Linked DNA regions of Homo sapiens: all the other regions are reported to be linked to region 3. The links are microRNA targets in miRTarBase. Many come from high-throughput screens and were not tested one by one. Region 3 holds a microRNA gene; each other region holds the end of a gene's coding sequence.

Region 1 (7,122 bases), not on the chromosome of region 3:
CCTACTAAGGGCAGAATCATCAGCATCACTGTCTTCCACATCCATATCTTATCCTGCTGGAAGGCCCTGGGGACAATAACAGGAGTGGAACTGTCATCTCTTATGATAACAATGCCTTCTTCTGGAATACCTTCTGAAGAAACTGCCTGAGGCTGTTTTACAGTTAACTTTTCTTTTCGTAAATAAGTAGGAGTGCACTCTACAATAATGATTAAAAGTACAGTATAGTAAGTACAGGGCAATAGGAATTTCTCAGCTCTATTGTAATCTTGTGAGATCACCATTGCATATGTGTTCAGTCATTGACCAAAATGTCACTATGTGTGGCACATGGGCATACCTATATCATCTGATTACTGTAACGATTATATGTCCCAATGCCCAACACTGAGAAAGTAAACACTCAGGAAATAGCAGCTCATATTTCTAATGTCTGCTTTCATTACTAATACTATTATGGTTTCCTCTCCTCCAGCCCATACCATGTTTACAGTAGTTCAGTTTTCAACCCAAGACATTTTCACTGGATGCTTTTTCTTCATGCTGGACACTACTCTGACCAAGGCCTGGAACAGGGCATTAGCCACTAGTCTTGCTCAACAAACATTTTTTTTTTAATTTAACTGATTTAGAACATTCTGCAAGCCCCAAAACTTTCTTTGAGCCTCAGTTTTCTCACCTCGAGAAAGTCAGAGTGCTCCAAGATGTCACTAGAAAAATAGTGCACAGCTTCAGCTTTGGATAAATTAATACTACATTGAGGTAGTGGTGGCAGTAATGAAGGGCAGAACTTCAGAAGTTCTCAGATCATAAGCGCCTTCAACTCCTAGATCCTGTCTTTCAAAATGCAGCCGTTATGTTGGCAGATAACATTTATCAATTAGTGCGTTGTAGGCACTGGTGTGAAAATACTTTTCATGGAGTGTCCAGTAAGATGTTCACAACGTTTAGAGGCAGATTGTACCATTGCCATTTCATAAAAAAATTAATGTTCAGAGAGGTGCTATAACTTCTCCAAGGTCACACAGTTATTCAGTGACAGAGCCAGGACTCAGCCTGTAGCTCCCAAACTCCAAGTCCAAATCTCTTTCTTTCCCCTGGGCTGCTTAGGGTATCATGATGCAGGAAGGGATGGGGCCCTTGGGAGGATTCTCTACCGTCCAAGGGATAGTCTTTGACTGCCAATTAATGTCTGCCTTTCATGTCCCACTTTTATCCCTCTAGGTTCTGAAGCTGCTGCTCGTGGCCTGGGATCGCCGCCTCATTTTTGCCATTGGCACCTCCAGCACCACAGGCGAGTCAGACACCGTCATCTGGAATGAGGTCCACCACAAGACAGAGTTTGGCTCTAATCTCACTGGCCATGGCTACCCAGATGCCAATTACCTGGATAATGTGCTGGCTGAACTGGCTGCCCAGGGCATCTCTGAGGACAGCACTGCCCAGGAGAAGGACTGAGGCCAGAAAAGCTTTGAGGTGGGAGGGGCCATGGAGACTGCAGGACAGGAAGTGAGGAGAGTGAGTCAATGTAGAAGAAGTTGGTGTCCTGCCCTCCCAACTTTCTATCCTCCCCTCCTGCCCTGTGTCCATCCCTCATCCCTCCCAACCACAGTGGGAGCCAGACTGAATATAGCGACATCATTCATAAATCTCATCCAACACAAAGGGAGATGGGATGAGGGCCATCCTGGGTCTGTTCCCATGGAGTTTTTGGTGCTGGGTAGGCAGGAATCCCCTCCCTACCCCACCTCCCAAGTAGGGGCATGGTCAGCACACCTAGGGTATGGGCAGTGCTTAGGCACTCCATATCCTGGCTTTGGGAAGCCGGGGTTTCTTGCCTCAGCCGGCTTCTTGCTACTTCCACTCTGCTTTGAGACTGGAGTTTCTGCTATTCTCCCTCTGCTGGAGGCAGGGAGCTCTCACTGTGCAAGGTTGGGGGGTGGGCAAAGGGGTGAATCACTAAACTGCTGTGACATCAGAAACTGATGCCTTGGTGTAGAGCAAGGAAGCACTTCTTCCCAAGAGGGTCGGAGAAGGAAAAGCCTCTGGGAGCACATTCTGCTGTCATCACAGTCCTTGGCTTCTCTGGGCCCTCCTCTCCTCCTCACAGCTCTCACCTGTCCAAAGAGGCATCTGGTTCTCTCATGTGGATGGATGGACTCTGGGGTTCCTCTTTGGAGTGGCATCCCATGATGCTGTTTCTAGACCCTCTCTGATCAAACCAGAGCCTGCATCCCACTGAGCATCTGAACTGTCCTCAGGGAGAGGAGCCCACAGCCTTCTTCCCAACTCATTCTAGACCAGCTCAAAGATTCCATGAGTTTCATCGAGTCACTGTGAGTGGAGCCCATGCTGGGCTCTGTGCCCTCTGTGTCTGTGCATGCGCGTGTGTGTGTGGGCGTGTGTGCATTGCTGGGCCAGCTTGAAGGGAAGGCCCGTCATGTCCCTGCACTCTGTTTTGCAAGATGCCAAACCCCAGTTCTGATGGGGCTCCAACAGCCAGGCTGTGGTCCTTTGACGTTCCTCACCTGTTGCCAACCTATCCCGTAGTGAACTGAAACCCCAATGAAGACAGAACTGTGCCTGGGGAGATGCAATGAGGTGAGGGCTGAACTCATCCTTTTATATTTCTTTTCAAGATTGGATCAGAGCTCATCTCCATCCAGTCTTGTTTCTATGAAGGCTTCAATCTGTTTCCATGCAAATTTGCTAATCAGAGCCCAGAGCTGCTGGGTCCCTCATCTCCCTCATCTATTATAGATTGACTTACAGCAGGGAGAGAATCTCTTTAGCTCATTCCTAATGGAGTTGGGATCACAATATGGTCTGGTCCAATCTGCATCTTGTTGTGTCCCAAGACCCTATCTCCTCCCCAACATTCTTATTGCCTTTGGCTCCCAGTAAGGAACGAATTGGGGGCCAGGGAGGAGAACAGGGGGGATCAAGAAGGGAAACCCAATTCCCCCTTTGAAAGTGGGTTCTTTGAACTATGTGTTTGGGGGAAGTTCCTCTGGATACTAATTTGAATTTATATACCTCATGTTTTGGGGGTTTGACGTATATATATATATATATATATGCATATATATTTCATAATATTTGGAAGGTTTTTGATGCTAGAAAAATGGAAACAAGAGAACCTTCAAAAATGGTACTTAGATGGGAACTGGAGGCCAATCTTTCATAAAGCCAGCCCCATAGCTGCTTGCTGTTAGGCCTCCAGCCATTTTGACATTGGGGTGGATAGTCGATTCACCTGCCTGTCAGTCGATTCACCTGCCTGTCACCCAGTTCTGTGGATGTGCTGGTGCTGAGCCTTTGCTCTCTTTCCAAATGGTTACAGGGATGTTGATCAGCTCCACCAGAGGGAGCTCTGATGGGAGGAATTGCTCTGCCATCCTTGTCCCTGTGTCTCCTGTCGGCAGGCAGCCATTGTATCTCACCAGCAGACCAGGAGACTGGTCCCAAGGTTACTGCACCACAGGGCAATTTCCTGCCATAGTTAGGAAGGAAACACCTGAACTAAATGGAAGAGACATCCCTGCGGTGTTTAATATCACACCCATGCCCTTTGTCAGGTTACCATGTACAGAGATTACTTGGAGAGCCTCATGCCGTCTCTACCTTCGCACACTGGTCAAGTATCTGCTGAGCTTCTTGGCCGCAAGGATGCAGAAATAGGCTGAGGGTCCATGGGAAGAAAGACACAATGAGGCAGTAGGAGGTGGGGAAGAAAAGAAGACAGACTTTCAAAATGGAATTAGGCACTGGGGAGAGATCAGTTTCCCCACATCAGGGAGAAGAAGGTATAGGTGGGGAAGGGGGTGGCCAGGAGCAGAAGGAAGAAGACTCAAGATGGAAAGGGAGCCGCTGTGCCTGTGGCAATACCACTTGGAGAGGTCGACTTCATACCTTCAAGCCTTTTCCCCTGGGCTTTTGATTGTGTCTGTGCCCCCTTTCTTGTCCTCTCTGCAGATGCCCAGTAGGGGCTACCTCATCCTCGTGCTGTTCTTGTGTGGCTTTCTGGGCAGTAGGGATCTTGAATTTCCTTTCTAACACTGTGCCCGGCAAGGCGGGGAGCATTCCTCTGCCCTTTGTCTTGTGCCAACCTGGAAAGGTGCAGTCTAGATTTCAGTGAGAACCCTGCCAGCTGAGCCCTGTGCATCTACTACCTTGACACAGAGTGTTTTCCCACTAGAAGCTCTGCTCTGCTCTCCTGGCCCAAGTAGGGGATTCCATGCCTTCCCTTTCATGGTCTTAGCACCAGCAGCCTAGTTTCTCCCTTCCAGAGTCTCCAGGGATGACAAATTGGATTGGAGACAAACCTCGTCAGATGCTCATCCCCTAAAAGGTTAATTGTGTATTTGTGGCTGCGTGTGCCTTTGTGTTTTCATTCTCTTCCCATTTTTGTACATTTTGGTCTTCTCTGTGGTTTTATACTTGGTCAAAAGTACTCGTCTTGGTATTGCACTGTTGTGTGCATGAGAAAACTGGGGGAAGGCTCACTGGTACAAGAAAGGACCCCTGACCCCTTTCCTTCTCTGTGGTCCCCGGCATTAGATTGGGGGTTCTGGGAGAGGCAGGTGAATGTCCTAAGTGAATTGTTCTGTTTGTAACTGGAATGTTTTTGAAGTCTTTGGTGTTGCTCCGTGAAAGGACATCGCCACCTGGTGCTCATGAGGTGTCTTTGCAGAACAATAAATGGCAAATGAACAACCACAAAATTGTTACTCTTGTTGGCCTTCTGCTGTTTGTAGATTAGTGCACCTATCTGTGAGGGATTTGGGTTACCTCCCTGAGTCTGTAAGCAACCACAAGCCCTGCCACTGGGTGGGGGAAGTCCCTCCCCAACCACTTAAAAACAAATTTTCCACATATTACCCACCCACACATTTGACCTGGCTAGACTTTGTTTGCCTAAAGGAACAGACCACATTGCTGGGAAAATGAGTAAGTGAACGTGTGGGAGAAAAACACTTTTAGAATCACGAATATTCACTTTTAAAGGTCTCTTTGCCTGGCTGCAATATAGTGTGTGTTTAAATTATTTACAGGCTGTTGTTTCTCAAATAAATGTTTAATATTAATCATTCCCAAACTGACAAGAACACAAAAATAAAATGCAAATACAGAGCCAGCTTTGTCACCCAAATCTGTGTCTATTTCTGATAGTCCATGGAATGTGGTTTTCTTGGAAGCCAGGGTTGGTCTCCCCACAGACCCCAGGCTAAGGTCACCAGTTAGGAACCCAGGACTTGGAAGGCAGAGCCTGTGAGCTCTTCCATCAGGGATCTGACTCCGCAAAACGACTTGATGAATGCAATTGGCAAACTCCCATGTTCGGACTTCATATGCATGAGCCGTTGGACAGAGGGTTTCTTAGTATATACTTTAATGCATGTTTATGTGCAATCTTGTTAGTGGGTATACAAGTTTGTGAAGAACTTCTCATTTCAATAGGCAGTTAATGTAATGCATTAAAAGCCTGGGAATTTGGGGCTATATTTTTCCTTTCTGACTCAATAATCTTCAAAGAATTCATAGGAAAGTCAGTACTTGCAGACAAGTGGTTAGCTTGGCTAAAATGTACAAAACACCCAGAACCCACAAAACACTCAGAGGTTTAGGAGAATGTTTTAATGCTTAAGAGGCAGGATCAAGTGAAGAGGTTACAGAAATCAGTGTCTCTGGCTGGGCAGTCAAGAGAGCGGGCTCAAATTCTGTGACTCACTTCTCTGTGTCTCGGTTGGAAATGAATGGGTATCCTGGTTCCCACCTTCCCACACACTGTGATACTTCAAACTCCTTGGGTGAAGGGCCTCTTCTCAGCCCAAGATCTTGATTGTGAACATTAACAAAGAGAACAGTCATCCTCCACAGAAGATAACTCATTAATGACATTTGATTCAGTGAATAAATATATCATTTAAAAAAATATTGTAGGGGGATCATGAAAGTAGTGGAGGTAATTACAATCAGGAGAGATTGGTATTAAAATTGAGCAAAGTCCCAACTCTCACCAGATGACAATTATGCATCCTGCTAGATGCCCCAGGGCTGTCAGCCTGGAACTGAAATAAATGTGTTATAAGTGGTGCTGGATGCCTTTTTCAGTTCATTTGAAAACATGGATTTGATCATGTCAGCTCCCTTTCTGCTGGAAAAAAAAGTAGTTTGCATAATTGGTGTTAACTACTCTGTTTTGATTCTACAGAGTAAGTAATACTCAAATGTGGTCTTACTTTAACTTCTTGCCTTTGTTACCCCCAGAACCATGCAGACATTGAAATGTGGTGTGCGTGTGTGTGTGTGTGTGTGTGTGTGTGTGTGTTCATATAACAGGAGGACAGGAAAGGTAAGGACCCAGAACAATGAAGACTTATTGAAATGTGGTATGTGTGTGCGTGTGTGTGTGTGTGTGTGTGTGTGTGTGTGTGTGTGTTCATATAACAGGAGGACAGGAAAGGTAATGACCATCCATGGAAGATGAAGGGGTAGTACTTAGCACCAGAATCTTTTCCAGTTTTTACCCATCTTTCATTACTCCTTGTCTCCAAATCATCCCTTCCTTAATAACTTAAAATAACTTAAAATATTTTCTGAGGACTTGATGACACCAGTCAGAAGTCCAAGAGTGGTCTGGTATAAGGGAGTGTTCATCAAGGGGCAGCTGGAAAAAGTGGAATTGGCACAGGCAACATCTTTCTTTTCAGATGTTTGAGGTCACCCAGAGGAGATAACAGTCTGTCAACATAGAGCCCTCAAAGTTAAAAAGCAGTAGCCAGGCAAGACTTGTGTCTTTTCAGGGCTCTTCCAGGCTCTAAGAGTGTGAAATTCAGACAGGTTTTTAAAAATCAAAATAAAAGGAGAGTAGTTCTTACAGGCAGAAACTCTTAGAGCTCACAAATTGGAAACAACTGCAAACTTCAGAGTAAATTCATAGCTTCCAAATACAAATGTTCACATTGTCCCTCCGCTATTTTTACACAAATGCATTCAGGTGAAGACAGCAACACACATTGGGAAAGGACATCTGCTTCCTATTTTAGTCCCAGAATCACTTTTGCTTCTAGTCCCAACTGTTCCCTCTCCCCAATCCCAACCTTATCCATGTAACAGTAT
Region 2 (7,109 bases), not on the chromosome of region 3:
GAGCCAAGATCGCACCACTGCACTCCAGCCTAGGTGACAGAGCGACACTCTGTCTCAAAAAAAAAAAAAAAAAAAAAAATACAAAATTAGCCGGATGTGGTGGCACACGCCTATAATCCCAGCTACTCGGGAGGCTGAGACAGGAGAATCGTTTAAACCTGGGAGGCAGAGGTTGCAGCGAGCCAAGATCGCGCCATTGCACTCCAGCCTGGGCAACAAGAGCAAGATTTCGTCTCAAAAAATATATATAAATATAAATATATATATATACACACAAATGTGATCATTCTCATAAACTAGCTGCCATGGACCAAGTGACAAGATCAAATCCCATTATGGAAGTTCCCACCACCAATTTAACTGTGACAACACTGGGATACTCATTCCTAGTGACTGAGCAGGTTGTCACAGTGCATTGGCCAAACACACAGCTGACAGCCAAAGATAGGAAAACTGTTCCTGTATCACTGATCGGTTGATCAAGCAACAAGATTCATCTGTTCAGCTCTTTACCCACACTTCCCCTATGAGAGAACAGCACACCCAGGTAGTTTCTTTACTAACTAACTGGACAAGGACCAGAAAAAACACCTTTTCCTCAGAATTGTTCACTGCAGACAATCAACAAAATCCTGTTTTTATGCACCACCCCCCAGGGAGGGGACAGCCTAAAGAATCGATTTTGGTCTTGGCTTTTGCTACAATGAACTATTACCTAAATTGAATTCCCCTTTGGAGGCCAACTGAAGGTTCACCATTTAGTAGCTGGTCCTCCGTATCTGTGGGTTCCACTAAGCAGATTCAATCAACCACAGATGTAAAATATTCAGGAAGAAAAGCCAGTAAAGAATAACAATACAGGCCGGGCACGGTGGCTCACACCTGTAATCCCAGCACTTTGGGAAGCCGACACAAGCAGATCAGTTCCAGACCAGCCTGGCCAACATGGTGAAACCCCATATCTACTAAAAATACAAAAATTAGCCAGGCGTGGTGGCGGGCACCTGTAATCCCAGCTACTCGGGAGGCTGAGGCAGGAGAATTGCTTGAACCCGGGAGGCGGAGGTTGCAGTGAGCTGAGATCATGCCACTGCACTCCAGCCTGGGCAACAGGATGAGACTCCGTCTCAAAAATAAATAAATAAACAAATAAATAAATTAGCCAGGCATGGTGGCACATGCCTGTAATCCCAGCTATTCAGGAGGCTGAGACAGGAGAATCTCTTGAACTTGGGAGGCAGAGGTTGCAGTGAGCTGAGATGGCACCTTTGCACTCCAGCCTCGGCAAGAAAGCGAGACTCTGTCTCAAAAATAAATAACAATACAACAACAAATACAAATTAAAAGCCACACAGTACGAGTATTTACATAGCATTTACATTGTATTAGGTATTATAAGTAATCTAGAGATGATTTAAAGTATACAGGAGGATGTGCATAGGTTATATGCAAATACTACGCTATTTTTAGCTGAGGACTTGGGCATCCATGTATTTTGGCATCTGCAGGGGATCCTGGAACCAATCCCCCTATAGATGACTATATGCCAAATCCAAAGTTTTTGAAAAAAAAAAATGTCATCTATTCCTATAACAAATTACTTGAACATAAGTAACACATTTCTGAAGCTGGTAGCCAGTTCTGGTTGAGTCAGTGTGGGCACCATAAGGAAATGTGATATTTGGCTCCCGGGAGGAAAAAAGTCTGCAGAGATTTTAGATCCTATCACCCACTCTTCATAAAACTTCCTGGTGGATGTTAAAGGATTCAAGTTCTGATGGCCCCTCCATTCCTTACCCCCCTCTGAGCAGCAATAAGAAAACAAAATATGAGAAGGGAGAAGCAAAAGACCCCCTACACCTCACCCTAAAAATGACCCAGCACATGTCCAGCCACCTCTTCAGTGCCCTCTTAGAGCTGGTTGGGCATTTGTGTGTGTTTGAGAGAGAGAGAGAGTGTGTGTGTGTGTGTGTGTGTGTGTGTGTATATATATGTGTGTGTGTATGTATGTGTGTGTGTGTGTGTGTGTGTGTGTGTGTGTGTGTATATATATGTGTGTGTGTATGCTATCAGACACAGACCTGGGAGGGAAGGCCCCTAGAGATGGACCCATTTAGCCCTCTCGCTTTACAGAGGAGAGGCTTCAAGAAGGTGAAGCGATTTGCTGCTGTGTGGAACTAAGAAATGGACTTGGATCCCATCCCCAGCAACTGAGCACTCCCTGCACCGCTCAGCCTCTGAATATCTTTGAAGTGGGTCACTGCAGTTCTGCTTCCCCAGAAAGAGTACAGTAGGAGGTCTTGTCTCAGGAGACTGTCCAGTTTTAGTGTTATAATAAAAGGCTTCAGGCTTCAGGCCTATAGTAGCCAGGAACAAGGAAACTTGGAAGAACAAGTTCTTATCTCTGAAGAATTTGATTCCCTAGTTTTCCTGTGTCTGGGAAATAGATGACCTGTGGTATAAGAAAAACAAAAGAACAAAAGATTCCAAGAGTTTAAAATCTGACATTTTAAAAACCAATATAGGCTGGGTGCAGTGGTTCACGCCTGTAATCCCAGCACTTTGGGAGGCCAAGCCGGGTGGATCACTTGAGGTCAGGAGTTCGAGGCCAGCCTGGCCAACATGGTGAAACCCTGTCTCTACTAAAAATACCAAAATTGGGCTCACACCTGTAATCCCAACACTTTGGGAGGCCAAGGCGGGCGGATCACGAGATCAGGAGATCAACACCATCCTGTCCCTCCTAAAAATACAAAAAATTAGCCAGGCGTGGTGGCACGTGCCTGTAGTCCTAGCTACTTGGGAGGCTGAGGCAGGAGGATCACTTGAACCTGGGAGGCAGAGGTTGCAGTGAGCCGAGATCAGACCATTGCACTCCAGCCTGGACGACAGAGCGAGATGCTATCTCAAAATAAATTACAAAAAACAAAACAAAACAAAAAAACTATGTATCAAAAATAAATAATAAACACTTCCCTATGTATGCTCAAATTTTGACTTCAGTTCTACCTAGACATGCAAATTTCCTCATTCATGTGTAAGATAGTACTGATTGTCATTCAAGTAAAAACTTAGGTCTTTTAAAATGTAGTGTGAGGAAAAAAAAGGCAAACAGAGAGGTGTGGTTGCCCTTTGATTCAGTAATGCCACTTGGGATATTATCAACAGAAGCAAAAAGTTTTGTTATCTATGATAGCAACCCTAAATGTCTAATAACCAAGGTCTGGTTTAAAAAATGGTACACCAGGCAGGCGCAGTGGCTCATGCCTGTAATCTCAACACTTTGGGAGGCTAAGGCAGGAGGATGACTTGAACCCAGGAGTTCGAGAACATCCTGGACAACATGACAAAACATCGTTTCTTCAACAAACAAACAAAAAAAACAAAATTATTATAGCTGGGCAGGAGGTATGTGCCTGTAGTCCCAGCTATTCAGGAAGCTAAGGTGGAAGGATGACTTGAGCATCAGGAAGTTGAGGCTTCAATGAGCTGTGATTGTGCCACTGCACTCCAGGCTAGGCAACAGAGCAAGACCCTGTCTCAAAAAAAAAAAAAAAAAAAAAAAAAAAAAAAAAATTGTGGTACACCAGTGCTGTGGAGTTTCTGGCTTTGAAAAACCTAAATTAAAAATATTGCAAAAACATAAAAAAGGGAGCCGAGCACGGTGGCTCATGCCTGTAATCCCAGCACTTCTGGAGGCTGAGGCGGGAGGATCACCTGAGGTCGGGAGTTCGAGACCAGCATGACCAACATGGAGAAACCCCGTCTCTACTAAAAATACAAAATTAGCCGGGTGTGGTGGCGCATGCCTATAATCCCAGCTACTTGGGAGGCTGTGGCAGGAGAATGGCTTGAACCCAGGAGGCGGAGGTTGCCATGAGCCAAGATCATGTCATTGCACTCCAGCCTGGGCAACAAGACTGAAACTCCGTGTCAAGAACACACACACACACACACACACACACACACACACACACACACACAAAGATTATGCTCTAATGCTTTTTTATGCAAAATGTGATTCCTGTTTGAGCAGCCTGTCACCCAAAAACTCATTAGAAATGCAGGGTCTACGGCCCCAGACCCACCCCACCAACTGAATCAGAATCTGCATTTTTTTTTTTTTTTTTGAGACTCAGTCTTGCTCTCTCTCCCAGGCTGGAGTCCAGTGATGGGATCTCAGTTCATGGCAACCGCCGCCTCCTGGGTTCAAGCGATTCTCCTGCCTCAGCCTCCTGAGTAGCTGGGATTACAGGTGCATGCCACCACACCCAGCTAATTTTTGTATTTTTGGTAGAGATGGGGTTTCCCAATGTTGGCCAGGCTGGTCTCTAACTCCTGACCTCAGGTGATCTGCCTGCCTCAGTCTCCCAAAGTGCTGGGATTACAGGCATGAGCCACTGCACCCAGCAGAATCTGCATTTTAACAAGATCCCCAGATGACTGTATGCACGCTGAAGTTTGAGAATCATGCTCTAATAAGTGCAGGAGGTGGAGGTGACAATTTTATGTATGATTATTTTTAAAGTATATGTGGTCAAGGATTGGAAGGCACTTTGCAAAAATAAAAACAGCTTAAATGGAGCTAAACCCTCCTTCCCACAGAAAGCGCCTGGTCGGCTGTAGGTCCTCCAGGCAGCTGTTAGGGAGGCAACACTGTTGTGAGGGTTTCTTTTTCTTTTTTATTTTTTTAATTTTATTTTATTCTATTTTATTTATTTATTTATTTATTTTGAGATGGAGTCTCGCTTTGTCGCCCAAGCTGGAGTGCAGTGGCACGATCTCAGCTCACTGCAAGCTCCGCCTCCTGGGTTCACACCATTCTCCTGCCTCAGCCTCCCAAGTAGCTGGGACTACAGGTGCCCACCACCACACCTGGCTAATTTTTTGTATTTTTAGTAGAGACGGGGTTTCACCATGTTAGCCAGGATGGTCTCGATCTCCTGACCTCGTGATCCGCCCACCTCAGCCTCCCAAAGTGCTGGGATTACAGGCGTGAGTCACCGCGCCCGGTCCTCTTTTTCTTTTTTAAATGCATTCCTGAATGTTCTTGTTAAATCACATTTAACAAATGTTTGGAAACTTAAAAGATAAATGAATATGTTGCGCTTCTTTTTAAACCAGACATTAAAACTGGTTAACTTACTGTTTTTCTTTTTGCCTCGGCTATGAGGAATCAGAGCTAAATTTAATACTCAAGACAGTAATACTATTAGTATAGCTTTTTTGAATATTTGTTTTTCTGTCTATGACTTTTATTTTCTATTTTATTAGGTTTTCTAGTATGTTTCTTACAAATCACTTAAAAATTCTTTCTGAAAATAAGGGTCCAAATTACAATAATGACTTCTAAAAACAGTCTGTTCTTGTGTGCCAGGCTCCATAAAACATGAATTTGTGTTTGAAATTATTTCTTCTTTCCCTGATCTTTTTCCGCCTTTCAAGACACAAGTAAGGCCAGGCGCGTGGGCTCACACCTGTAATCCCAGCACTTTGGGAGGCAGGGGCAGGCAGATCACCTGAGGTCAGGAGATGGAGACCATCCTGGCTAACACGGTGAAACCCCGCTTCTACTAAAAATACAAAAAATTAGCCAGGCATGGTGGCACGCACCTGTAATCCCAGCTACTCGGGAGGCTGAGGCAGGAGAATGGCTTGAACCCAGGAGGTGGAGGTTGCAGTGAGCCGAGATCGCACCATTGCACTCCAGCTTGGGCAACAAGAGCGAAATTCCATCTCAAAAAAAAAAAAGACACAGGTAAAACTAAAGGCTTCCTGTTTGCTCCCCAGTGAGGGTCTCAGAGGCCAAATAGCTCCTGCCCCAGTGGGGTGTTGGTCCTCTCTCCCCAAGCAGCATCACAGCCTTACAGCCCAGCCCCTGGTGTCCTGATGCCTGAGGATTCAGTAAGGAAGCAGAGAGCCCCAGCCTTTCTAAGGGCACGCAGACCACCCTCCCATAGAATTACTCACCGACCCTTCAGCTGCTTCACACCTCCTCTGTAATGAAGGAGAGAACAGTATACGTTACTACCAAGTCTCGTTTTTAGGATAATTTCCTGCACACTACTCCATCTCCAAACTACATCAGATTCCTCTTACTCTCAAGAAAGCTTGCACTTTTTTGTTCATATCATTTATCAGCTTGTAACTGTATCGCATGATTGTCTCCCTTACCAGACCATAAGCTCCAACTTAGATTTCCCTTAACCACTGTACTTCCAGTGCCTAAAGGCATTGTTAGGCAGCTGAAGCACATTAGCTGTTATTGGTTGGGCAGATGGGTGATATAAAAAATGAATATGGCCCGATGCAGTGGCTCACACCCATAATCCCAGCACTTTGGGAGGCTGAGGAAGGTGGATCACTTGAGGCCAGGAGTTCGAGACCAGTCTGGCCAACAAGGTGAAACCCTGTCTCTACTAAAAATACAAAAAATTAGCCAGGTGTGGTGGCACATGCCTGTAATCCCAACTGTTTGGGAGGCTGAGGCAGGAGAATCGCTTGAAAATGAGAGGCGGAGGTTGCAGTGACCCCAGATCACGCCACTGCACTCCAGCCCGGGTGATGACGGGGCAAGACTTTGTCTCAAAGGAAAAAAAATAGTGAATATGCTGGAAAGACAGAAAGGAGAAAGAACTATCAGATCTGCTACTGTGGCATCAAAAAAAAAAAGGGAGAACTAATTTATTAATCACTTGCAATGTGCAGGCATTGTTAGTGCTTTATATATGCTATGAGATCCTCAGCACTTCCTTTTTTTTTTAATTAATATAATTCACTAACAAGCTGGATGCAGTGGCTCACACCTATAATCCCAACACTTTGGGAGGCTGAGGTGCACACCAGGATTCTGAGACCAGCCTGGTCAACATGGTGGAACCCCGTCTCTACAAAAAAAATTTTTTTAAAAAGCCAAGTGTGGTGGTATGGGCCTGTAGTCCTAGCTATTTGGGAGGCTAATATGGGAGGATCACTTGAGCCCAGGAGGTGAAGGTTGCAGTGAGCTGAGATCATGCCACTGCACTCCAGCCTGGGTGACAGAGCCAGAATCTGTCTCAAAAAAAAAAAAAAAAAAAAAAAAATACATATATATATATATATATATATAT
Region 3 (7,122 bases):
GGTGCATGATGTTTTTCCATTTCCTTGTCTGATTTATCACGATGGCCTTTCTTGGGGAGGGCTCTGTCCGCTAATGCCGAAGCCATGTCAGTTGACACATTCGTTCTCCTGGAGAATTAGCCTGGTGCTAATTTAACATTAACACTTCACCATATTCTAAGAGCTCCTGTTTCAATGTCTTTCCCTTTGTCCTTCCGCAGGGTCCTTCTGAGCTCTTGTCTGAGTCCTGGTTTCCCCGTGTCTGGTCGTTCACTTCACGACTCCAGATGGGAAAACAAAATTATTAAAGTTCCTACCCCATAGGATTATTGTTATAATAATTAAATAAGATAGTATAAGAACACTGCCTGACATACAGTGAGACTTGGTAGATAGTAACTATATCACCATTATTATCACCATCATCACTGAAAATGTGTGTCTGGGACTTACTCCCTAGGAAATGCCTGAAATAAAAATTATTCCACTGGCCCCTGAAGAAAGAAAACCAGGAAGCTCGCGTTGTTCAGCTGCCAAGCCTGTGCCAGGCAGTCTTCTGGGTACTTTATGGGAGTCACTCATCTGATCCTTGGAAAAAGTCCATTAGAATCAGAAGCACCAAGAGGCGAATTACCTTGCCAGGGTCCGACCACTGTCACTCAGCTGGGAGGGCTATGTATGGCCCTGGGTGGCAGTTTCAGTCCATACCAGCCCCTGTTTCCCACCCCATTGTCAGAGAAGGCTTGTCTAGTCCCACAAAGGCCATTTGTAGTTTATGTGTGCCCTTAGAGCTACTCCTCGAAGGAATATTATGCAGCTATAATATTATGCAGCTATGAAAAATAATGGTTGCTAGGACTGTGTAGCACGAAGAAAATGCTCATGGTATAACAGAAAGGATGCAGAATTATGTACTTATTATGATTACAACTCTAAAAACTCACAGATGAAGAAAATAAGTAGGGAATGTACAAGAATGATGATGGAATTGGGATGATGGAAGGGTCTGTGTTTTAACATTTTATAAAACAAAGGTTTAAAAAATAACAGCACCTTAAAAATTAATGACTGCTGAAGTAGGCCTGTGAGGACTCCCTACAGTACTCTAGGATCATATAGCCTTTGTGTTTACATTGAGGGTTTTTACAGGAAAGCCAAGGAGTCCTTCGGCCAAGGTCAAGGTTAACATAACTGATGATGTGAATCCTTTGTTTGAGGGTTCCTACCTTAGCTCACTCCCATCGTATTAGGAAGGGTGATGGGTACTTCTAGAATGCTTCACAATGGTCTGAAGTCTTTCTCTGCCTGATGGCCAGAGGTGGATATTATCTATGAAACTGTTTTGGAAAACCTGCAACCCAAACCATAGTTTTTGTGCCTAATAGGGCACATTGCAATAACTTTTGCATGAAATATCTTCCTTGCCTTTATAAAGGAATTTATTTCCCCAATTAAAAAACAATAACAACAATCTGCACCAAAATCAGCCAGTCTTTTGAGTTGAATCACTTCTCTCCATTCTCTCCCAAAACCTTAAAAAAATCCTCAGGGTACTGTCAGTAAACAATTGCTTATTACATCCCTATAACCCTACCCTGGTACACACACATGCCTTCAGTATAAAATGGATGTGTGTTCCTTCTGGGGAGTATTCACACTGCTTTCAGGAAGAGTTTGGGGAGAGACAGTAATTTTGTCTAAAATGCTCTGCTCACCACCGTCTCAGGTTGCCTGTTTTTAAAGGAGAATGGCTCATGGTCTTTGATGATGATTCTGGTACATTTCCACCTCAGGCTCTTAAAACTTAAGCATCACTTTTTGCCTGGGATCTCCCAGACATGCACCGTTGAATCTGCTGTTCACCTGGGGAGATGAGAATGTCAGTGAGCGCTGGTGCATGTGCTGACAGTATTGTTAATGGCGCCGTTTCCACATCTGCAGGCAGACTTGTGCTCCAAAGACAGTTATCGGAGTTGCTGCAAAAGTGACCACCCCCTGCAGCCGTAACCTTCAATACTGTGCCTAGTCTCGAGCTCAGTCAAACCTGGATGCCTTTTCTGCAGGCCTCTGTGTGATATGTTTGATATATTAGGTTGTTATTTAATCCAACTATATATCAAACATATTCCTACAGTGTCTTGCCCTGTCTCCGGGGGTTCCTAATAAAGTTTATAAGGCAACAGGAAAGAACACGTTAAAATCACAAGTAGATTTAGAAGATGGAGCACTCATTACAATTCATGTTATCTTCCATTTCTTCTTATAGCATTTGAGACCTGTATCAGTATTACTGGATTACTTGCTTATTATAGAAACAATAAGTGTTGATGTTTCATAAGAGCCTGGGGTATTCTGTGTGGCTTAGTTTTGTGCAGTGATGAATCCTTAAGGAATTCAATATGCTTGGTGGAAAAAACGGTTCCAACCCATGTCTGTGACACAGAATAAAGGTCAGGATTATAGCCTCAAACACATCTAGATTCATGTTTCATTTTGGTTCATTTTTATCCTGATCTTCAATTTAGAAGTTCATGTCAGGGTTTCAGCAAAAATTCAAGGAGCACAGATCAGTTTTCTATGACTTCCCTTTCCACTCACAGTAACAGAATGTATAAAGCAAATCCTCCATACCAGCTGCATGGATACTGAGTCAGTGAGCTTTGTACAAACCTTGGATATAGGACTAAATATATCTCATGAAGGTAATATAATGTTGACTGAACTCTTGAATTTCCTGTTATAGGTTAACTTGTCAGTGGAGGTTGGTAATATTTAGAATAAGCCAACAATCGGAAAGTAATATCATAGCCTAATTGACTGTGGCAGGAAGTTTGGGATTATGATATAGAAAACATTTTTTCTGGTACATAACAGCCTTCTTTGGTTGGTTTTGACCTCTTCCTTATAGAAAAGCCTGTGAAGTATGTGTGAGTTCATTCTGAGTTCTCTCAACAAACAAAATACTTTGTGAGCACTGCTTTCTGGAAAGAGAACTACTGTTCTCAATGTTTTGGAGGAGAAAAGGTGTAAGCAAATGGTTTAAACAGGTAGTCATGAAAGCTTCCCCTTACTGTGTCTAGAAGTCATTGCCACATTGCTTACAGGTGAATGCATAGTGACAGGGTCACCAACAGCAACATCAGAGAGGTGATGACACAGGAGAGGGTCCTGTAATGTTGGAGTCCTGGCTTCTGGAGTTACATAATGGATCCTGTCTCTGGAATCCTTCTCCATTGAGAAGCGATCTGTGTGTGTTGGCAGGTGCTCTGTCAGGCGGGTTTCAAGATGCTGCCCCAATCAGTCCCTCCTTCACACAGCTAGAGAACACCGGCTTTGGTTTTGAGTCCAGTTACATTGTTTGACTGAAATGGCAAATGGCCATGGAAAAGAGACAGCAAGTTATTACGAACAAAGAAAAACATGGTTTCAAAAGGACCTGCAGACGAAGCCCAGTTGTTTGAATTGATGTGATTTTCTTGTTTCTTTGGGTGACTTTGTCACTGACCAGCATGTTCTCTGTAGTGATTAATATGGTGAAGGGAAAAAGGAACCAACTGTTCAGGAAGGAGGAGGACAAATACAGCATTTTCTGTATGGCTGCACTTGGGCTTTGAGTGGCACTCATTGGTTCCAGACCAGGAGCATACAGGGTGTGAAAAGCAAGTATGGGGCCGGGCATGGTGGCTCACACCTGTAATCCCAGCAGTTTGGGAGGCCAAGGTGGGCGGATCATTTGAGGTCAGGAGTTCGAGACCAGCCTGACCAACAGCTGGGTTTCACCCAGTCTCTACTAAAAATACAATATATATATAAATATAAATATATATAAAAATATATTTTTATATATATTAAATATAATTATAATTATATATTATATAATATATTATATATTATAATATATATTATATATTATATTATAATATATATTATAATATATAATATATATAAATATATTATATATATATATATTTATATATATATATAATAAGTCAGGCATGGTGGTGCACGCCTGTAGTCCCAGCTACTCAGGAGGCTGAGAATCGATTGAACTTGGGAGGCGGAGGTTGCCGTGAGCCGGGATCGTGCCACTGCACTCCAGCCTGGGTGACAGAGTGAGACTCGGTCTCAAAAACATAAATAAATAAGAAAAGCAAGTATGGGAGACTCCCCTCCAGGGTAGACCAGTAGGTCCTTGTCAGATCCTTCACAGACACAGAAAGGGGGCTTAAGATGTAGGGAGTTTATCTGATACAGCTTGGGAAGAACCCTGTTATCTTTTGTCTGTGCTTTCTATATCGACATTCAAGGGCCCCTTAAACAGAAATAGTGATTAAAAGATTATTTCAGTGGCGTTGCTTTCCATTTTGAACACAAAAGTAAAGCAATGGATACTATGGGAAAACTACTCCCAAGATACTAATCATGCAGGTGCGGACCTTTTCCAGCAGACACTGCATGAACTCGCGCGTATTCCTCGGATGCGGAGGGTGTGGTCCCTCCCCAGTCACAGGCACAGCCATTTGGCAGTTTCTCTGCCACCCATTTTGCCTGTTTAAGGTCTCTCTGGAGCTTTCCCTGAGACAAGGCCAGCTGTCCATGCCTGGCTCTTAGCAGTTCCAGTTGTTCTGGGAGGTGTACCTTTTGTTTGAACTAATAAAGGTGGCAGTCCTGAAGCCACCCCATCCATGGGTCCTCCAGAGGAGAAGCTGATCTAACCTTTGCACAGTTTGGGGCTTTGCATACAGGCTAAGGCCTCCCTCAAGGCACCTCTCAGTTCAATACCAGAAGCAAACTAGTAGCAGCCAAACTTGCAACAACAAAAAAAAAAGAGAAATGTGGCTGCCTGCTCCACTCCGGCTTCCAACTGGCAGGAAAATGCCTCACTCCTGTTGTGGGAGTTCTAGACACTGGCCTCCTTTTTTCCCTCAAGGACATTTAAATTAAATGCAAAATGTTCACACTTTAAAAAATATATATCCAAGAGGGTTTTTTTAAAGTTTCTGATGCACTATGACCTTATTTTTAGTAGCAGGCATTCTGCAAGACTCTGAGTAACACAGAGCAAAGCCTGAGACCCCACTGGAAAGATGACACGGGTGGTTCTTCAGTTTGTGGAGCCAGTTGTGAGAAGGGCGACCATTGTGTTTTTAGCTCTCAACAAAGCATTCCCTCAAAGTAAGTTTTCAGGGAGGGAGGCAAGCCCTTTGGCCATCTCCTATGCATGCCTTATGCTCCTTCACCTTCAAGTTCATTGGCGGAAGGAGCTGTGGGGTTGCAGGGCATAAGAAAAGGCCAAGAAAAAGACCATGGGAGGACATTCTCTTCCCCTGCCCAACACTTGCCCAGGACCTGACAAGGACAGTGAGCAGGGGAAGTGGGTAAGGACGTTGAGGAGGAGCGGGGGCAGTGGGGGATGTTGGTAAGGATATTGAGGAGGAGGTCAAGAGAAATCAGAAGAGAAAAGGTAGTTCCTGCTTATTTTAGTCACCGCCTTCTAAGAGAAGTTTAATTTGGAACTGTCCATGTCTAGGCAAAAGGACCAGGAAGGTTGAGTTGCTCCTCCAGTGACAGAAAACTGAGTAACTGATACCTGGAGAAAGGGCAGCGAAGACTCCACAGTCACATAGTCAAAGTACAGAACAGTGACTACCACCCGGATTGTCCCACTCCTGGTTGGGTGCTGAGAGAGGAGCTGGTGCCCATCTATGCTGTTTGGTACCTGACGCTTACTGATTTGTGGGTTTTACTTATAATGAATTTAGGCTGTAATCAGAAATAGCAAGAAGAATTTTTATTGGAATTATGGATACATAACAGGGTTTAGACAGAGAAACAGATTAATTTAGCCCCAAACCTGAAAAAAACAATTTTTGATAATGAAATTGCTAATAGTTTTTGAGCATCTCCTATGAGTCAGCCATGCTTTACATATACTAATCACGTGCTTGTAATGACTCCATCAGATAGGTTAGGAGGGGAAGTAGGCTTAGAAGATGAATGAATTAGTGTGAAGACCATGTTCTCAGAATCCATGAAAGGCCAAATGTCAAAAGAAACATGAGGAAAGGCTGTCCCTTTTACCTTCTCCACTTTCCACACCACTTCCCCTACCACCACCATTTCCTCTTCCAGGGGACATATAGCTACTGAAACTTTAAACCCATCAGAGCAACATAAAGGGGTCCCAAATACTCTCCCAACTGGGAAACAGGGGAAGGGAGCCAACCCAATATATAGCCTTTCCCAAGAGGGATCTCACCAGACCACTGACTTTTTAAAGGGTGAGCAAGGAAGGTCAGCATGCAGGGAAGAGGTCAACTACAGGGTACTCAGACCTTTCTAGAAGCTACCAAAAAGCCCAGGTAGGGATAAATCTGTCCTCAGCAAGAGTTGGCCAGACAGCCCAGGAAAGACGATTGCTTAGAGCTGATGGGCACCTGGCCAAATAGCCTTTTCAAATGAAGGGGAAGGGGGAAAAGAACAGTATATCAAAGGAGAAGTTAATTCAGCATGCAGAGGCAGCAACAAACACCTTCATTAGGCAGAGTAGAAGCTTAGTTTGTACATCTGTTCACTCTTTTTCCCAGTGCTGTCTTGTTACATAAGAGTGCCTCTTGGTAAAATGCCACTGTGTTTACATTTGTATGTCCATGCATGACTAAATGTCACAAACTGTGAATTCCAGTTGAAGGCTGCAAGTAGAGTGTACAATTAACAACTCAAGGCCTCAAACAGGGCAGGAACTTGCTCATAGCTGTGTATGCATCTGTCCACCAGGGCTCAGGAGTGGATGCTAATGATGTGGATGCTTACTCTGTGTATTTCTCCTTCTCCTACCTTGTGCGTTGTGCTCTGGCTGAACTCTGGAACTTGGGAAATGCATTTTGAATGGATATATTCATTCAGCAAATGTTGATCATCACATGGGCTCCTCTGCCTGATTTTGTGCTAGAGAAACATAGGTTGAATAAAACACAGTCTCACCCTGGAGGGGATCACAGGCTGGTAGGTTTAAGTTAAATGGTGTTTGTTTTCCTGAGTCCAGGCCAGCATTTCCTACAGAGTAGTGTGTAACCACCTCTGTAAGAAATACAGATTCCTGACTCCCACCCCAGACCTACCAAAACAGCATCTGCATCTTTA
Region 4 (7,120 bases), not on the chromosome of region 3:
ATAATGATATTGCATGTAGGAGTGTATTTTTAGGAGATACATGCTGAAGTATTTAGGGGTGAAGTATCATCATGTCTGCAACTTCTTTTCAATGTTTCAGCAAAGATGAATAAATAAACAAAACAAACATAGAAACATGTTAACAACTTGTATTTCTAGGTGGATGGTGTACAAAATAGTGATTTGTCATATATTTTTACTTTTCTGTGGGTTTGAAATTTTTCCAGTGAAAAACTTGGAGGGACATTCTTGGCTCTTTCATCTAAGTTATTCATTCTAAGTTTCTGAAGTCATTTGATAAACATTTATTGAGTACCTACTATGTATGACACATTCTTGTAAGTGCTGGGAAGTGGTGATTAAATAGATGGAAAACATCATTCTCTTTCAGTTTCCTCATCCATAAAATGGATATAGAGTAAGCATACATCGTGTAAGAACAATGCTTGGTACAAGAAGGCATTCAATTAATGTCAGCTGTTATAATTAATCAGCTTCGTCCATTGTTGATCTGATTTCATCAATTTGATGTTTTTGGTCTTAAACTCTAAATAAAAATGTGTGATCTTCCATCTTATGTATTCTTCCCAACCCATTTCCTTAAGTTGCTACTCATCTTACTTTCATTAATATTACTAGGGCATTTGAAGTCTTGGAGAGAAGACATGATATAAAGTCAAAGCAAAGATGAAGTTAAAGTGGTCAGGGGTATATTACATTTTTCTTTTCTTTTGACACAGGGCCTCACTCTGTCACCCAGGCTGGAGTGCAGTGGTGCGATCACAACTCACTGCAGCCTCAGTCTCCCAAGCTCGAGCAATTCTCATACCTTAGCCTCCTGAGTAGCTTGGACTACAGGTATGCGCCACCACACCTGGCTGATTTTTAAAATTTTTAGTACAGACAAGGTCTCACTATGTTGCCCAGGCTGGTCTCGAACTCCTGAGCTAAAGCAATCTGTCGGCCTCAGCCTCCCAAAGTGTTAGGATTACAGGTGTGAGCCATCGCACCCAGCCATAGTTTTAAAATTAGGTTTGTACATATGCAAGTAGCCTCAGGTCGAAAGTTTATATTCACAGAGATTTTACTGATGATTATGTTCTGGTCTAAGATTGGGTTATAAACCAGAAGAAGCTAAAAAAAAAAGGTTTCTAAATTTATTTTTCTAAATACTAGATCTTAAACTGATTTAAAACACTCAAAATTCCTTAATACTCTTCCCCAAGAATCTTGCTTCTTGTACACAGGGTGCACACTTAACATGTTATTTTATCTATGAGTAAGAACATTCCTTCCTTCCATGCTGCTCCACCCACTCATGTTTTCAGATGCTAATGGCTTGGCCTGATAAATGCATGGTTCATTCTAAGCCCATACCATAAATTTATCACTAAGTTCCAAAGGTTTCCTTTCAGTGTAGACCTTGATCATAGCACATAATTTGTTAGTTATTTTAGTGCAATAGCACTAAAAAAATCGAAGTTAATGTTCATTCACATAATTTGCAAAGCTAATACTTAAAACTGATGGAAGTAATTCAATAATTCAAAATAATAAGTGATATTTTTGAGGTTAAGTTTATTTTCAAGAGTTCAAAACAATAAAACAAAACATTTTTATTTTCCTATTTCCCTCTTACAGGTTTGGAGAAGACTGGAACAATTATTCATACATTTGTATTACTATCAAGCATCCCACATACCTTAAGGATTGTATACTGCATTTTGATACAATCTTCTTCACTAACAATATAGTAAATTATTTTTATACATTCTGTGTAGGATTAAAATAAATAACTATAGAAATAATTTAACAAATCTTTATAGAGCATCTAGTGTGTGCCAGGTTTTGAAGACACAAAAATAAATAAAAAATGGTCCCTGCCATTAAGAAGTTCACAGTGTAAAGGGGCAAACACACAAATAAAATAGACAATTTAATGTCATATGACAGTTTTGAGAGAGGTCTATACAAAGAACTACAAGAACATCTAAAAAGTCACTTAATCCAGAACAGTAGAAGTTATGGATTGTTTCCAGGCCAAGATGATAAGTTTTACAATAGATTTTTGCCAAGAAAAGAATCAATGGTGGGGATTACTCCAGGTATATCAAACAGCCTGTGCAAAGGCAGAGAAGTGAGAAAATTTTTATGAAATAGTTTTGTAAGACTGAACAGAAAGATATAGGGTGGGACAGTGGTTAGAGAACAGGCTGGAGAGGTAGGCCAGACCACATCATTAAAGGCCCTATGGGCTTTAGTGGGGAATTTTGATTTCTACCTGTATGCAGTCAGGAGTTTAAGTTAGGGTGACGTGCTAAATTTGGGGTTTAACAAAGACTACACTGCTAACAGTAAAAGGAAGGAACTGGAGGCAGGAACACCAGTAAGAGGTTATTTTAGAAATCCCAATGTCAAATAAGGACAAGAATTAAGTAATGAGGCAGAGATAAAGATGGGGAAGAGGTGAATTACTTAGATATTTGGATGATAAAATCAAGTAAGAATTGACTCGGCTGGACTTGGAGAATGATGGAGAAAAGTAAAATATGGTGATTTTCTAACAGGACATGCCATTCACTGAGATAGGAACTGGAGGAAGAACTACTTTTATGAGATGGTAAGTTTTGATTCAGGTGCTTATATATAAACTATCTTTGGATATATCAAATATTTTATATATATATATATATACTTATACTATCTTTGGATAAAAATCCAAAAGATAATAGCATATGTATTTCTGGAACATCTCATGGAGATCTGATGTTGGGACACGGACATAGACGGCATTAGCACCAACAATGGTAGCTGACATAGGAGTTGTAGATGGGATCACCAAGGATGTTAGAGTATAGAGACGAGATGACAACAGGTGGAACTTTGGGGGAACACTAACATGTAATGAGTAGGTGAAGGAAAGCGAGTCTTTGGAGGAAACTGAGAAGACGGGTTAGAGTAGGGAAAGAAAAGTCCAAGAGACTATAGTTCCAACCCATGGAGGAGAGAGTTTTAAGAAGTACTTATGTGTGTCAGTGTGAGTGTTTATGTGTGTCAAATATATTAACAAGTAGAATGCATCCAGTGGATTTAGACATTAAGTCACTTGTAATTTGGATACCAACAGTTTCAACCATATGGAGTGATGGCCATATTATAGCAGATTAAGACTGACTGGTGAGGAAGTCAGAGTGAAATCTAAGATGTTAATGTAAGCCACAAATAATACATATTTGAAAAATGGGCAACGAAACCACATCAGGTGGGGGTCCCAGTATGATGGTGAAACTCAATTTGAATTAATTTAGGTAAGCAGATAAGGAATGGCTGGGACCAGGGTCTGGAATATAATCAGGCCTCTTTCCCTGCAATTGTTCTTTCCCCTGGTGGCTCCACATTCTCTTACTTAAGATCCGTTTTCGTTTTCTTTTTTTTTTTTTTTTTTTTGAGACGGAGTCTCGCTCTGTCGCCCAGGCCGGACTGCGGACTGCAGTGGCGCAATCTCGGCTCACTGCAAGCTCCGCCTCCCGGGTTCACGCCATTCTCCTGCCTCAGCCTCCCGAGTAGCTGGGACTACAGGCGCCCGCCACCGCGCCCGGCTAATTTTTTGTATTTTTAGTAGAGACGGGGTTTCACCTTGTTAGCCAGGATGGTCTCGATCTCCTGACCTCATGATCCACCCGCCTCGGCCTCCCAAAGTGCTGGGATTACAGGCGTGAGCCACCGCGCCCGGCCAAGATCCGTTTTCTTTGTGTGGCAGGGAACAGTTTCATCAGCAAAGAGGAAAGGGCTTCTTTCTTCCAACTTATGAAAAGGGGGGATTGGGTCATGTTTCCATCCTTGGACTAAACACGGAGGCTGGGAAAAACAGGATAATGTAAAAAAAAAAAAACAAGAAAACAAAAAACCCAGCTGGGTGCGGTGGCTCATGCCTATAATCCCAGCACTTTAGGAGGCTGAGGCAGGTAGATCACAAGGTCAGGAGGCCAAGATGGTGAAACCCCGTTTCTACTAAAAATACAAAAATTAGCTGGGCATGGTGGCGGGCGCCTATAATCCTGGCTGCTCGGGAGGCTGACACAGAGAGTTGCTTGAACCTGGGAGGTGGAGGTTGCAGTGGGCCAAGATCATGCCACTGCACTCCAGCCTGGGTGACAGAGTGAGACTTCATCTCAAAAAACAAAACAAAAAAACAAAAACAAAAAACTGCCCCCCACCCCGGCCAAAAAAAACCACACACTTGGTTGGAAGTGAGAAGGGTGAGTCTCCCTAATTAGGATAACTTCTATTAACAGATGATGATGATAGATTGTAAGGGGGCTGGACAAAAATAATAAACATCCATTACAAAAAAACAGCTAAAAATATATGTGTACATTTACTATTGTACACAGATGCTATTCAGCAAAATGCTTATAGCTTTAATTTTTCCCATACTTTGAAAATTTCCAAGTGCTTTCTTATCTTTTATGAAATAAAATTAGTAGGATACCTTTCTTTCTTCCTTTTTTTTTGAGACGAAGTTTCACTCTTGTTGCCCAGGCTGGAGCGCAGTGGCGTGATCTCTGCTCACTGCAACCTCTGCCTGCCAGGTTTAAGCGATTCTCCTGCCTCAGCCTCCCAAGTAGCTGGGATTACAGGCACCTGCCACCACGCCCGGCTAATTTTTGTATATTTAGTAGAGACAGGGTTTCACCATGTTGACCAGGCTGGTCTTGAACTTCTGACCTGAGGTGATCCACCCACCTTGGTCTCCCAAAGTGCTGGGATTACAGGCGTGAGCCATGGCGCACAGCCCCTTTCTTTTGTTAAGAGTAAATGGGCAGAAGAGAATGTTGTTGGGTCTAGAAATTATACTCTATGATCATCAGTGGAATTGGAGAGAAGACATAGGAAGAGACAGGCTATCAGTCTTCAAATATCTGGCAATCATAGACAGGAAGGACTGAATCAGCCTGGTTCTAGAGGGTGGAAGTGGGGCTAGAAGGCAAACGTTACAGAGAGGTGGTCTTCAGTGCAAGCCTAGACTACAACTGGACTGTTCTGTGACATAACAGAGATGCTATTAGTAGAAGTACAGGATTTCAGCTTGGGCTGGCTGACTGACAGTGTTCCTATTGAGAAAATTACTGAATAGTCCTGGACACTTGACTGCCTGATTTTCAAGGACTCTTCCAACTCTAAGAAGATAGTAGGAGACAATTAATTATCTACTGCTTGATTCAACATACAGAATTTGCATATAGTGGGGCATCTTTCTAATATTTGCCTATTTGTTAAATATTGGTTTCCTGGATTCTTATATTTAATGCTATAGAGAACAGTTTTTAAGAAGAAAACCCCACACTAACTAAAGCAGTTTGTAGACACTTTTTTACTATGGTGGTAACCACAGATTCAGAATAAACAATTTGTTATAGTGAGTAGCATATAATCTGTTTTTATGAAAAAAGAGAAACAAAAGTTTTTAAAAGTTAAAATAAAGGTTCCTAAAAAGTTATAAACTTTAACAAAGACAAGTGTTAAGGATTCTTTAGAATAACAGTTTTCTTTTTAATATGGAGAAAACAAAAAGGAGCTGAAAGTCCTTTGTCTTGCTATCTAAGAATAGCACACTAGATGGTGCTATAAGGCTGTCAGAAAGAGAGTTTTACCAGGCTAGTGTGGCATTCTGATGGTAAAGTGTTCTGGAAACTTTCCACTTACTTTCAGCTCCTGAGAGCCGTTCCAGGTTTATATAAAATTAATGGGAATCTCAATTGGACAAACTTTAGCCCTGAGATGACATTAACTTAAAACTAAACCACAGGCTTAACACATTAAAAATAGTTTCACTATTTGACATTTCAATCTGATTCCACTGAAATAGAAATGTTAAAGTCATTAAAATGTCAATGTATTAATTTAAATGTATTGCTATTAATTTCACTTAGCTAGTCTTCCCATGAGCCTAGTTATAACCACCACTTAATGAATCTTTAAGTCAGTTTAAAGTGGCTTCCTGAAATTTTGAATTATCATTAAGCTGAACATACAAATCACTCTTACATTTAGTATTGCAAATATATTAACACAAATACATGAAACATTGTATTTGGAAATCACTCTATCAGTATATTATTTCTTATAAAAATAACATTTCATGATTTTTCCACATTACAATAAAACCAGAAAAATTTTACTAAAGTGCAAAACAAAAATAAAGCTTTACTTTTATAATAGTTCCATTTCATTTTCTTTTAAAAAGGTGAACAACAAAATGAACGAATAAAGATATCGCTTTTGCAACCTAAGAGTCATTTAAGTTTTAAACTTTCAAAGACCTGAGATTTGTGATTTTTTTTCCCCTTATCTTTCCAGTTCTGCTTCTAGAATTTCCCCCCATGTATCTGCATCCATTGGGTACATGATTTTTTCTGGTAGGCTAATGGGAGAACAAATGTTGCTGTATCTGCCACTTAGCCATTCGTGTTTCACTTTACTCTTCTGGTAATTCCTCAGCAGTATCACCTGAAAGAGGTAAATCACCGTTAAAAAAGACTGTAGTAGGTGGTTGGTTAGTGAATGTGTTTAAAGCAAGAGAAGCAGATTGACAGGGCTGAAAAAAAGAGTATTTACATTTATATATACGTACATTAATAAATGTATGTGTCTGTGTACGTGTGTGTATGTATATGTGTATTTATACTGAGTGGCATAAGGTGAAGTGGAAAGAAGGAGCTAATTCCCTTCTGGTTAACGCAGGAAAATTCCCGAATTTAGAATTTTAAAAATGCAAAAGGATAAATGAAAGATAGTGTGGAAACAGTGTGGTTAGCAGGAAAAGACTAATAACTTTAACTCATTTCCAAGAGTCAACACACTGTCTGTGTTATTCTGCATATGTAATTCTGACTCCTCCAAGCAGAAGTTAGAATTGGCGCAAACCTGCTATCATAACGCTGTCAACAACACTGCAGATCGCAAAGATTAAACTTACCCTCCAGGAATAACCACTTTCTAGATCATCATCTATTTCTCTTCGGCACACAGCTCTTACAGTCATGCAGTGAGGTTTCCATAAAGAGTCACTGTTTCTTATTGTGTCATTCCAGCTCCTGCATGTCAATGAAGCCCTGCA

Evidence for each region. Region 3 holds the annotated microRNA hsa-miR-190a-3p (CUAUAUAUCAAACAUAUUCCU, at 2,089-2,109, shown strand). A microRNA usually pairs through its seed, bases 2 to 8, with sites in the 3' UTR of a target mRNA and lowers its output. Matches are read on the target gene's strand: a 7mer-m8 pairs with bases 2 to 8, a 7mer-A1 pairs with bases 2 to 7 and ends in A, and an 8mer does both.
Region 1: the mRNA of DTX4 is a reported target of hsa-miR-190a-3p. Seed matches in the 3' UTR shown: 7mer-m8 at 3,060-3,066, 7mer-m8 at 3,062-3,068, 7mer-m8 at 3,064-3,070, 7mer-m8 at 3,066-3,072, 7mer-m8 at 3,068-3,074, 7mer-m8 at 3,070-3,076 and 2 more.
Region 2: the mRNA of LHFPL5 is a reported target of hsa-miR-190a-3p. Seed matches in the 3' UTR shown: 7mer-m8 at 2,047-2,053, 7mer-m8 at 2,045-2,051, 7mer-m8 at 1,987-1,993 and 7mer-m8 at 1,985-1,991.
Region 4: the mRNA of FBXO48 is a reported target of hsa-miR-190a-3p. Seed matches in the 3' UTR shown: 7mer-A1 at 5,734-5,740, 7mer-m8 at 2,687-2,693, 7mer-m8 at 2,685-2,691, 7mer-m8 at 2,683-2,689, 7mer-m8 at 2,681-2,687, 7mer-m8 at 2,679-2,685 and 2 more.

The regions. Positions count from the first base shown.
Region 1 is chr11:59,203,452-59,210,573 of GRCh38, forward strand. It overlaps DTX4 (deltex E3 ubiquitin ligase 4), which reads left to right. Exons shown (of 9, transcript NM_015177.2): 9 at 1,225-5,137. The coding sequence ends at 1,458. MPEG1 (macrophage expressed 1) reads right to left here. Exons shown (of 1, transcript NM_001039396.2): 1 at 5,059-7,122. Among named protein-coding and RNA genes, the nearest start is that of MPEG1, 5.9 kb to the right of the region's middle.
Region 2 is chr6:35,818,325-35,825,433 of GRCh38, reverse strand. It overlaps LHFPL5 (LHFPL tetraspan subfamily member 5), which reads right to left. Exons shown (of 4, transcript NM_182548.4): 3 at 5,971-5,997; 4 at 1,364-2,452. The coding sequence ends at 5,987. Among named protein-coding and RNA genes, the nearest start is that of LHFPL5, 17 kb to the right of the region's middle.
Region 3 is chr15:62,821,920-62,829,041 of GRCh38, forward strand. It overlaps MIR190A (microRNA 190a), which reads left to right and starts at 2,038; the gene lies at 2,038-2,122. All of the region lies in intron 54 of TLN2 (talin 2), which reads left to right.
Region 4 is chr2:68,457,861-68,464,980 of GRCh38, forward strand. It overlaps FBXO48 (F-box protein 48), which reads right to left. Exons shown (of 4, transcript NM_001024680.3): 3 at 6,980-7,120; 4 at 1,562-6,510. The coding sequence ends at 6,349. Among named protein-coding and RNA genes, the nearest start is that of FBXO48, 5.9 kb to the right of the region's middle.